3 linked regions of the Homo sapiens genome follow. The protein of the gene in region 3 interacts with the protein of the main gene of each other region in a biochemical or structural test. Each region holds a gene or a part of one and is shown on either strand. Other genes may lie near its edges.

Region 1 (3,100 bases), on a different chromosome or scaffold from region 3:
TGCAGAAGCCAGGGCCCCAGACCCAGGAGGATCAGGGCAGATTCTCAGGTGTATGCTGGGTGCTCCCTCCCTGAGGACAGCATTACCCAAGCCCACAAAGGCAACGGGCATTGGCGTCGGACACAGGAGGGCTGGTGGGGGCTTCCTGGGACAGAGAGGACCAGTCCTCCTCTTGCTGTGCCACCCCAGGTCAGCCGACTGGCTCAGGGACTGCCTCTTCTGCCTGCAGCTCCCAGGACGAGATGGCTGGGAGGAAAAACTGGGAGGGAGGTGGGGCCTGTCTCCAACCCTGGGGACACTGCAGAGGGATCCCCAAAAGCTCTACTGAATCCCGGAGTCCTCTAAACCACTGGCCAGCCTGGGCCCTGCAAGGCGCAGCTGTGCCGCCCCTGGCTTCTCAGTACACGATCAGGGGCCGCTGGCCCTGCTCCAGTGCTCCAGCCGGTGGGCAGACTGGCCACACCAGGGGCGAGCTTGGGGCGACCACACATGACACGGCACCCAACACAAGGGGGCCATGCACAGGGGGCCTGGTGCCGGCCCGCGGCATCCTGAGTATGTCCCTGGAAAATGTGTGGCCACGGTCTTTGCCTGGGCTCAGAGTCACTGTGAAAATCCAGGTTCTTAAGAAATAACTTTAATGTATTTAGAAACCTCAAAACCGAAATCTCCCTGCCGGGTCCCCTCCCTCCGGCCGGCCCCTTCTCAGAACGTGGGGCACTCCTGGGCACTCAGGGCCCTTCTTGTCCCACTCAGGGGTAGGAAGGGCATAGGAGGAGACCTCGCATTGCCCCCAATAATCGCTATTGGTGCCTCCTGTGCCCATCAGTCCAGGTGGAGTTGCCCCCTGGGTGCAGTGGGGAGGTGGGGCCCAGCAGCTGAGGGGCCCAGCCAGCCAACGGGAATAGGCTGGGCTCCCTGGGACACGGTGTGGCCCCCTCGAGCTTGCCTGGGGGTGCCTCTCTGGGGACATGTGATCTTCCTTCCGTGAAGTGTCTGGAGCCCGGCACCACAGCCACAGGCTCTTGGGAAGCCCCAGGGAACCATGCTGGGTCCTTGAGACCAGCTCCCCACGCTCTCTAGAGCCAGGCACGACCACTTGCTGATTGGAGACAGGCTGTGCTGCCGCCGGCTGGCCTCGCCAGGGCTACACGTCCGTCTCCACCCGCAGACGCTCCATCCTGCGGACATTGCCCTCCACGGCCACACGGCTGGTGATGAAGCGGGCAAAGTCCTCGGGGAACCATCCCGTCTCTCCGTCCCGGAGCCTCTCGCCATAGAGCCACCCTGAACCCGGATAGGGGTGGGAGGGAGGTGAGGGGAAGGCCGTGGGTCCCCCGGCCCCTCTGAGCTGCTATGCCTGAGCACACCAGGGCCAGGCTTCTCCTAGAACTGACCACCTGCTCCTGCTCAGAGCAGACAGCTGCTGAGGCCTTGCTCATGGTCACCGGGCACCCAGCCCCTGCTCAGGTGCTCGCCACTGAGAAGGGTGCTGGGCTGAGCACACCCCACACAGCGCTGCCCGGCATGAGGAGGAGCCCTGCCTGCCCTCTGCAGGCTCGTGCTGGGCCTGGCTGAGCGGGGATCCCCTGGGAGGGCAGAGACACCTCCTCCTCCCCACGTGGGACACAGTGACCATGAACCTGCTTTTGATTCTGAGGTTTGGGGATGTGGGAGTGCTCCCTTTGAGGAAGCCCTCGAGAGAGGGTGAGCACATGGTCAGCCTGCAGCCCGGCATGCTCTGGACCTGGCCAGGCTGGACGCTGACTCACGCCCGCCTGTCCGTTCCCACCCATCTGTGCCCAACGCCCCTGCACTCACCATCCTCCTGCTGCAGAACCAGGACCACGTCCGCCTGCTGCAGTGTGACCTCGTCTGCTTGCTTCGCGAAGAAGGCCTTGGTGATCTCCACCTGGGGCAGGTCTGCATAGGGCAGTGGCCATCACAGGGCTGTCGGGAGGCATGGGCCAGGCTCCACTCCCCAACGGCCTCCAGCAGACACATCCCCCGGGGCCGGGGCACCCCATCCCCCGACTGCCAGGCCCCAGCACAAGGCCAGGTGCCAGGCTCACTTGGGCTACAGTGGGGGCCAAAGTGCCAGCCACGGCAGAGGGCCAGCCCTGCAGGCCCCAGCCCGCACTCACCTCCTTTGCTGGAGAGGCCCTGCCACTGTCTCTCACTGTGTGTGAGCGCCACGATCCACCGTGCCCGGTCACTCCTGGGGACCAGAGACAGCATGAGCCAGGCCTGGAGACCGATCCTGCCCGTCTGATGTTCCTTGACTTCTGACAGCCACCCATGGGGGCCGTGGCAAGGAGATGGGGGTGGTGGGGGTGGGCAGGAGTGGCTGGGCAGACTGTGCCAGGCAGGCTAACCCCCAAGTCACCCCAGCCCCAGGTCACAGAGTTGGGTAGTGGCCACACACCCAGACCCCAGCCTGCTGGACCTGAGGCCACCCCGTTTCCTGGCACTGGGCCCCAGCTCCCTGCCCCCTCCGTTTGCTGTGACAGACTCAGCCTCAGCATCCTCATCTGGAAACGGCCCAGAGCTGTCCTCAGTCAAGACGAGCTGAGAGGGAATATGGAGACTGGCGCACCTGTGTGCCTGGCTTCCACGGGGGGCCCGCAGAGACTCCATCAGTGCCCCCTCCCATTCTGAGTGCCAGGACCACCCTGCTGTCTGAACTGGCCCCTACCGGCCAGGGTCGCTGCACCCCAGCATCACTGCTGTCCACCTGCAGCTGTGCCCTCGGGGCCTCAGGGCTCTCCTGCCTCGGGGCCTCTGCTGAGCAACCCCACACTCCGGCCCCACCTCCCTCTGCTCACATGGGCTAAGCTTTCCTCACGGCACCCCCCGCACCCCACCCCCCACCTCGTTTCCTCCCTTGTTCCCACTCCTGGTGGCCCAACTGTTGGTGCGTCCCCTCCCGGGAACATAAACTCCATGAGGACAAGGCCATTTCTGTTGTTTCTGGCTCTACCTCAGCACCTACAGCAGGGCCAGGTGCACGGTGGGCGTTCAGAGCCAGCCATGCAACAGCGAGCAAGGCAGGGGGACAACCCGGTCCCCATGGAGCTAATGTGCCTGTGGCCTGGGAACA
Region 2 (3,210 bases), on a different chromosome or scaffold from region 3:
TGACAGCATTTCATTTCCTTTATGTTCTGATTATACGTTTATCAGAAAACCTGTATCTCTTCTAGTTCAGCTAGAAATTGGTAGAATTCAGGAACTCAAAGGCTTGGCAAAGAACTGTCCTATTATTTGGTATCATCTTACATTTTAGAGAAGTTGCTTGGTTGAGTCATTGTTAAAGCTTTTGCTTCTCTTTTCATTATTGTGGGCCACTATCCACAGACCACATTTCTATAGGCCCTATAACTGCTTTGCCGCACAAATTAAACGCCGGGATGTTTCATACGTATATGCCAGCATTTCAATGCTTGTCAATCAGAGTTTATAAAATATAGGGATTACAACTTGATATTAACATCCAAATCTATTGTGCTCATTTTACGTGTGAAAATGAGAAACCCTCATGCAGACGCTAGATTTCCCAGCCTCTTTGTCACCCTGTTTTTAATTTATCTCCAGGTTTTGAGTCAGTAAAATGATTCCGCTTATCAATTTAATACAGAGATAAAACATATCTATGAATCAGAGTGATCGGAACTAAAATGGATCTACAGGTTGTTTGGCATTCAGCCCAGCCCTGCTGAGGGTTTTAGTGGGGCTAATTTCTCTGTACAGTAGATTCATCCCTGTTCTTAAATTGTGCCTCAGTGAGGGATATGATTTGCTTCACATGAAGAAGTAGACACAGAAGTGCATTGTTTCAGGGAGGAGACTTTAAAATTTTGAAACATTCTTTTTATGCTTACCTTTTTTTTTTCTAGGTATACTTCAAAAGAAATTATCCACATATTGGTCACACTGACCACATGGTTACAAACACTTCCAATGGACAGCCCTCGACCTTAACTATTTTCGAGACAGCACTGTGAATCCAACCAAAATGTCAAGTCCGTTCCGAAGGCATTTTCCACTAGTTTTTGGACTATGTAAACCACATTGTACTTTTTTTTACTTTGGCAACAAATATTTATACATACAAGATGCTAGTTCATTTGAATATTTCTCCCAACTTATCCAAGGATCTCCAGCTCTAACAAAATGGTTTATTTTTATTTAAATGTCAATAGTTGTTTTTTAAAATCCAAATCAGAGGTGCAGGCCACCAGTTAAATGCCGTCTATCAGGTTTTGTGCCTTAAGAGACTACAGAGTCAAAGCTCATTTTTAAAGGAGTAGGACAAAGTTGTCACAGGTTTTTGTTGTTGTTTTTATTGCCCCCAAAATTACATGTTAATTTCCATTTATATCAGGGATTCTATTTACTTGAAGACTGTGAAGTTGCCATTTTGTCTCATTGTTTTCTTTGACATAACTAGGATCCATTATTTCCCCTGAAGGCTTCTTGTTAGAAAATAGTACAGTTACAACCAATAGGAACAACAAAAAGAAAAAGTTTGTGACATTGTAGTAGGGAGTGTGTACCCCTTACTCCCCATCAAAAAAAAAAATGGATACATGGTTAAAGGATAGAAGGGCAATATTTTATCATATGTTCTAAAAGAGAAGGAAGAGAAAATACTACTTTCTCAAAATGGAAGCCCTTAAAGGTGCTTTGATACTGAAGGACACAAATGTGACCGTCCATCCTCCTTTAGAGTTGCATGACTTGGACACGGTAACTGTTGCAGTTTTAGACTCAGCATTGTGACACTTCCCAAGAAGGCCAAACCTCTAACCGACATTCCTGAAATACGTGGCATTATTCTTTTTTGGATTTCTCATTTATGGAAGGCTAACCCTCTGTTGACTGTAAGCCTTTTGGTTTGGGCTGTATTGAAATCCTTTCTAAATTGCATGAATAGGCTCTGCTAACGTGATGAGACAAACTGAAAATTATTGCAAGCATTGACTATAATTATGCAGTACGTTCTCAGGATGCATCCAGGGGTTCATTTTCATGAGCCTGTCCAGGTTAGTTTACTCCTGACCACTAATAGCATTGTCATTTGGGCTTTCTGTTGAATGAATCAACAAACCACAATACTTCCTGGGACCTTTTGTACTTTATTTGAACTATGAGTCTTTAATTTTTCCTGATGATGGTGGCTGTAATATGTTGAGTTCAGTTTACTAAAGGTTTTACTATTATGGTTTGAAGTGGAGTCTCATGACCTCTCAGAATAAGGTGTCACCTCCCTGAAATTGCATATATGTATATAGACATGCACACGTGTGCATTTGTTTGTATACATATATTTGTCCTTCGTATAGCAAGTTTTTTGCTCATCAGCAGAGAGCAACAGATGTTTTATTGAGTGAAGCCTTAAAAAGCACACACCACACACAGCTAACTGCCAAAATACATTGACCGTAGTAGCTGTTCAACTCCTAGTACTTAGAAATACACGTATGGTTAATGTTCAGTCCAACAAACCACACACAGTAAATGTTTATTAATAGTCATGGTTCGTATTTTAGGTGACTGAAATTGCATCAGTGATCATAATGAGGTTTGTTAAAACGATAGCTATATTCAAAATGTCTATATGTTTATTTGGACTTTTGAGGTTAAAGACAGTCATATAAACGTCCTGTTTCTGTTTTAATGTTATCATAGAATTTTTTAATGAAACTAAATTCAATTGAAATAAATGATAGTTTTCATCTCCATTCAGAGATCTGTATTTCTGTGCTTCAAGGGATTCCTGACTCATGTTCTTGCTGATGAATGCCAGTGAGTTTTCCTGAGATCGAAAAATACAGTATCAAAGGATACCTTCTATCATCAACCGGTTCTCTTGGCAAATTAGGTGTACCAAGTATTCTAACGGGTAGATTTCAGTGGGTTTCAGACAGTTTGAAGCAGTTGCTATTTAAGCAAGTCCATTTGCACCATTCTAGGAAGAAAGAGTATTAGCTTATGCCTCAGGCTTGAGCAGTATTAAATGGTTGAGGTTTTTGCTTTTGGTTTTGGTTTTTAAGGTGACTTTGTCCAAAACTAACAAGAAACATCTACCGCTGTTACGCTGAAATCACTATTAAATAATGATTCTCAAAGTGTGGTCCCTGGACCAGCAGCATACCGCATCACCTGGGAACTCGTTAGAAATGCACCTTTTTGTGCCTCACCGCAGATCTACTGAATCAGAAACTCTGGTGGTGGGGGCCAGGAATGTGTGTTTTAACAAGCCATAGGGTGACTTTTTTTAAGGGGCCATGCTAATCTCTGTATCATTACAATTTTAGTATATGTGCTACTGAAGCGAGCGCCCTA
Region 3 (3,751 bases):
TCCTGGCCAACATGGTGAAACCCCCGTCTCTACTAAAAATACAAAAAAAATTAGCTGGGCATGGTGGCAGGTGCCTGTAATCCCAACTAATCAGGAGGCTGAGGCAGAAGAATCGCTTGAACCCGGGAGGCAGAGGTTGCAGTGAGCCGAGATCGTGCCACTGCACTCCAGCCTTGGCAAGAGAGAGAGACTCCGTCTCAAAAAATAAAATAAAATAAAATATCTGATATGTCAGATGGTAGCTTTAAATGCTGAAGAGAAGCTGGGCACAGTGGCTCACATCTGTAATCCTAGCACTTTGGGAGGCCAAGGCTGAAGGATGGCCTGAACCTCCTGGTCTTGAGTTTGAGACCAGCCTGGGCAACACAGTGAGATCCCAACTGTACAAAAAATTAATCATGTTTCTAAATTAAATTTTAAAAAACTGAATGCGGCCGGGTGCGGTGGTTCACGCCTGTAATCCCAGCACTTTGGGAGGCCAAGGCAGGTGGATCACCTGAGGTCAGGGGTTCGAGACAAGCCTGACCAACATGGTGAAACCCTGTCTCTACTAAAAAATACAAAAATTAGCCAGGCATGGTGGTGTGCGCCTATAATCCCAGCTACTAGGGGGGCTGAGGCAGGAGAATCGCTTGAACCCAGGAGGTGGAGGTTGCAGTGAGCCGAGATCACGCCATTGCACTCCAGCCTGGGCGACAGAGCTAGACTCCGTCTCCAAAATCAAACAAACAAACCAAAGGCTGGGCGTGGTGGCTCATGCCTGTAATCCCAGCTTTTTTGGAGGCTAAGGTGGGTGGATTCCTGAGGTCAGGAGTTCAAGACCATCCTGGCCAACATGGTGAAACCTCATCTCTATTAAAAATACAAAAAAATTAGCCGGGCATGGTGGTATATGCCTGTAATCCCAGCTACTGGGGAGGCCGAGGCATGAGAATTGCTTGAACCTGGTGGGCAGAGGTTGCAGTGAGCTGAGATCGTGCCACTGAACTCCAAACTGGGTGACAGAGCGAGACTCCAGCTCAAAATAAATAAATAAATAAAAATAATAAAATAAAATAAAACAATGACCTCGCCTAGCAGAGGGTGAGTGCTCCAGCACCCTCAGCTGTCCCTGTCCTTTTTTTTTTTTTTTTTTTTTTTTTTGCGACGGAGTCTCGCTTTGTTGCCCAGGCTGGAGTGTAATGGCGCCATCTCAGCTCACTGCCACCTCCGCCTCCCGGGTTCAAGAGATCTCAGCCTCCCGAGTAGCTGGGATTACAGGCGCCCGCCACCACGTCCGGCTGATTTTTGTATTTTTGGTAGAGACGGGGTTTCACCATGTTGGCCAGGCTAGTCTTGAACTCCTGACCTCAGGTCATCTGCCCGCTTCGGCCTCCCAAAGTGCTGGAATTACAGACGTGAGCCACCGCTCCAGGCCTGTCCCTGTCCTTATTTGTGGTCCCTGTTCTTCCAGGGTCCTGAGCTCAGGCCCCCCCGGACTGCGGGTATCCCCGGGGAGGGCACAGCTGGCCCTGGCAGGGCCCGGACACCTGGGGCCCGACCCACCCCTGCGCACCCCGCGGTGTCGCCTTCCCGGGAGGCTCGGGTTCCCAGATCCCCTTACCCGGGCGTCTCGGCTGTCGCGCCCTGGGCCGGGGGAGGGGAGGCTGCAGGAAGCGGCGGATCCGGCGGCGGCGGCGAGGGCCCGGGTGGGTGGCCGAACTTCTCCCGCCATGGAGGGAGCAGCGGCCCGGGAGGCCCGGGGGACCGAGACCCCGCGCGCGTCTGCGCCCCCGCCCGCGCCCTCGGAGCCCCCGGCCGCGCCCCGCGCCCGCCCGCGCCTCGTCTTCCGCACGCAGCTGGCGCACGGGAGCCCCACGGGCAAGATCGAGGGCTTCACCAACGTCCGCGAGCTGTACGCCAAGATCGCCGAAGCCTTCGGGATCGCGCCCACCGAGGTAAGGAGCCCGGACACCGGCGCCCAAGACCACCCGCCTGATGGGGTGAGGGGTAGGGAGCTTGGACCCTGGACGGGAGACCCCAGATCCCCGGATCCCAGACGTCGGGGTGGCCGCCTAATCGCCGGATCTCAGAGACCCAGCCCTCAGATCCCGGGGTGCCACACTCCCAGGGGCCCCCTTTGCACGCTCTGCGCAAAAGATGGGCAGGTCTTAGGACTAGCGGACCCCTAGATATTCCAGAAAATCCTCTGCGCAGACCTAGCTTGGAGCGGACCCCAGCCCTCGGGGAAGCGCCTCTGTGCTTCCTGGGCGTAGCTGGGGTCTGGGGTTCCAGATGGCCCCCTTAGGGATGGGAAGTTTGAGGCCGCCGTGGGGTTGGGGGGTTCCTGGGCGTTTTTCCAATCCGGGTTCGTTTGGTTTGCAGCCCCCAGGGGGCGCCAGCAGATTAAACCTGGAGGTCTGGGGGCTGGAGGTCCCGGGGTATGGAGAGGGGTCTCCACCTGCTGGAAGTCTCCTTCTCCCTCCTCTCTCTGTTCTGGGGGTCCCACGCCCTGCCCTTTCCCATGGGCTGGGATCCTGGTCGCTGGGGGCAGGGGCCTGCGCAGACAGGGTGGCTGCGTGGGGGGATGCATGCCCTGGCTAACTCTAGGCTCCTTCTCCCCCGGGAAGATTTTATTCTGCACCCTCAACAGCCACAAAGTGGACATGCAGAAGCTCCTGGGGGGTCAGATAGGCCTGGAGGACTTCATCTTTGCCCACGTGCGAGGCGAGACCAAGGAGGTGGAGGTCACTAAGACAGAGGATGCTCTGGGGCTGACCATCACGGACAACGGGGCTGGCTACGCCTTCATCAAGGTGCCCGGGAGGGGGTGGGCGGGTGGCTTCCTGGGGTCCAGCAACTGCCCCCCCCACTCTGGGTCGACGTGGGTTCTGCGGATTGGAGGCGGGTGGCTGGGGTTGCCCTGCCAGCGACGCTGGATCCCTGCAGAGAATCAAGGAAGGCAGTATCATCAACCGGATCGAGGCAGTGTGCGTGGGTGACAGCATCGAAGCCATCAACGACCACTCCATTGTGGGCTGCCGCCACTACGAGGTGGCCAAGATGCTCCGGGAGCTGCCCAAGTCCCAGCCCTTCACCCTGCGCCTGGTGCAGCCCAAGAGGGCCTTCGGTGAGGCGGGTGGGCTGGCGGGAGCTCTTCCCGAAGTGCGTTCTACGGATGCCTGGGGTGGAGGAGGGTCGGGGATGGGACGGGCTGGAAGGTTCTAGGTGCACCCGCTGCGTGCCAAGGAGCTCCTGGCAGGGTATCAGAAACTCGTAGGTAGTTTCTATTAATAGATTGTTATGGAGTCAGCCTGTGGGGGAGGGGTGGGGGAGAGACTGGGTAAAGTGGAGTTGGAGGAGGACGCGTCCAGAACCACTTTGGAGCCAGGCTGGGAGACTTGTTTTTGTTTGTTTGTTTGTTTGTTTGTTTTTGAGACGGAGTCTCACTCTGTTGCCTGGGCTGGAGTGCAATGGCGCGATCTCAGCTCACTGCAATCTCCACCTCCCGGGTTCAAGCGATTCTCCTGCCTCAGCCTCCCGAGTAGCTGGGACTACAGGCACCCACCATTGCGCCTGGCTAATTTTTGTATTTTTAGTAGAGACGGGGTTTCACCATCTTGACCAGTCTGGTCTCGAACTTCTGACCTCAAGTGCTCCACCCGCCTCAGTCTCCCAAAATGCTAGGATTATAGGCGTGAGCCACCGCGCGCAGCCTGGGAACTTTTAAAGCAGTGCTTTGAGGTCATGGTGGATTGTAGAGAATGAGAAT

Evidence for each region.
Region 1: the proteins of GIPC3 (region 3) and ARHGEF16 interact in a test that uses a peptide from one of them, tested with the Homo sapiens proteins (one large-scale study listed by IntAct).
Region 2: the proteins of GIPC3 (region 3) and ABCC4 interact in a test that uses a peptide from one of them, tested with the Homo sapiens proteins (one large-scale study listed by IntAct).

What each region holds. Positions count from the first base shown.
Region 1 is NC_000001.11:3,478,635-3,481,734, reverse strand, and holds the end of ARHGEF16 (rho guanine nucleotide exchange factor 16), read right to left. Parts: intron 2,219-3,100; coding exon 2,145-2,218; intron 1,924-2,144; coding exon 1,822-1,923; intron 1,288-1,821; coding exon 1,148-1,287; 3' UTR 622-1,147; downstream 1-621. UniProt on the Homo sapiens protein: Guanyl-nucleotide exchange factor of the RHOG GTPase stimulating the exchange of RHOG-associated GDP for GTP. May play a role in chemotactic cell migration by mediating the activation of RAC1 by EPHA2.
Region 2 is NC_000013.11:95,019,231-95,022,440, reverse strand, and holds the end of ABCC4 (ATP-binding cassette sub-family C member 4), read left to right. Parts: intron 1-758; coding exon 759-866; 3' UTR 867-2,606; downstream 2,607-3,210. UniProt on the Homo sapiens protein: ATP-dependent transporter of the ATP-binding cassette (ABC) family that actively extrudes physiological compounds and xenobiotics from cells.
Region 3 is NC_000019.10:3,583,886-3,587,636, forward strand, and holds the start of GIPC3 (PDZ domain-containing protein GIPC3), read left to right. Parts: upstream 1-1,592; 5' UTR 1,593-1,712; coding exon 1,713-1,937; intron 1,938-2,609; coding exon 2,610-2,795; intron 2,796-2,928; coding exon 2,929-3,109; intron 3,110-3,751.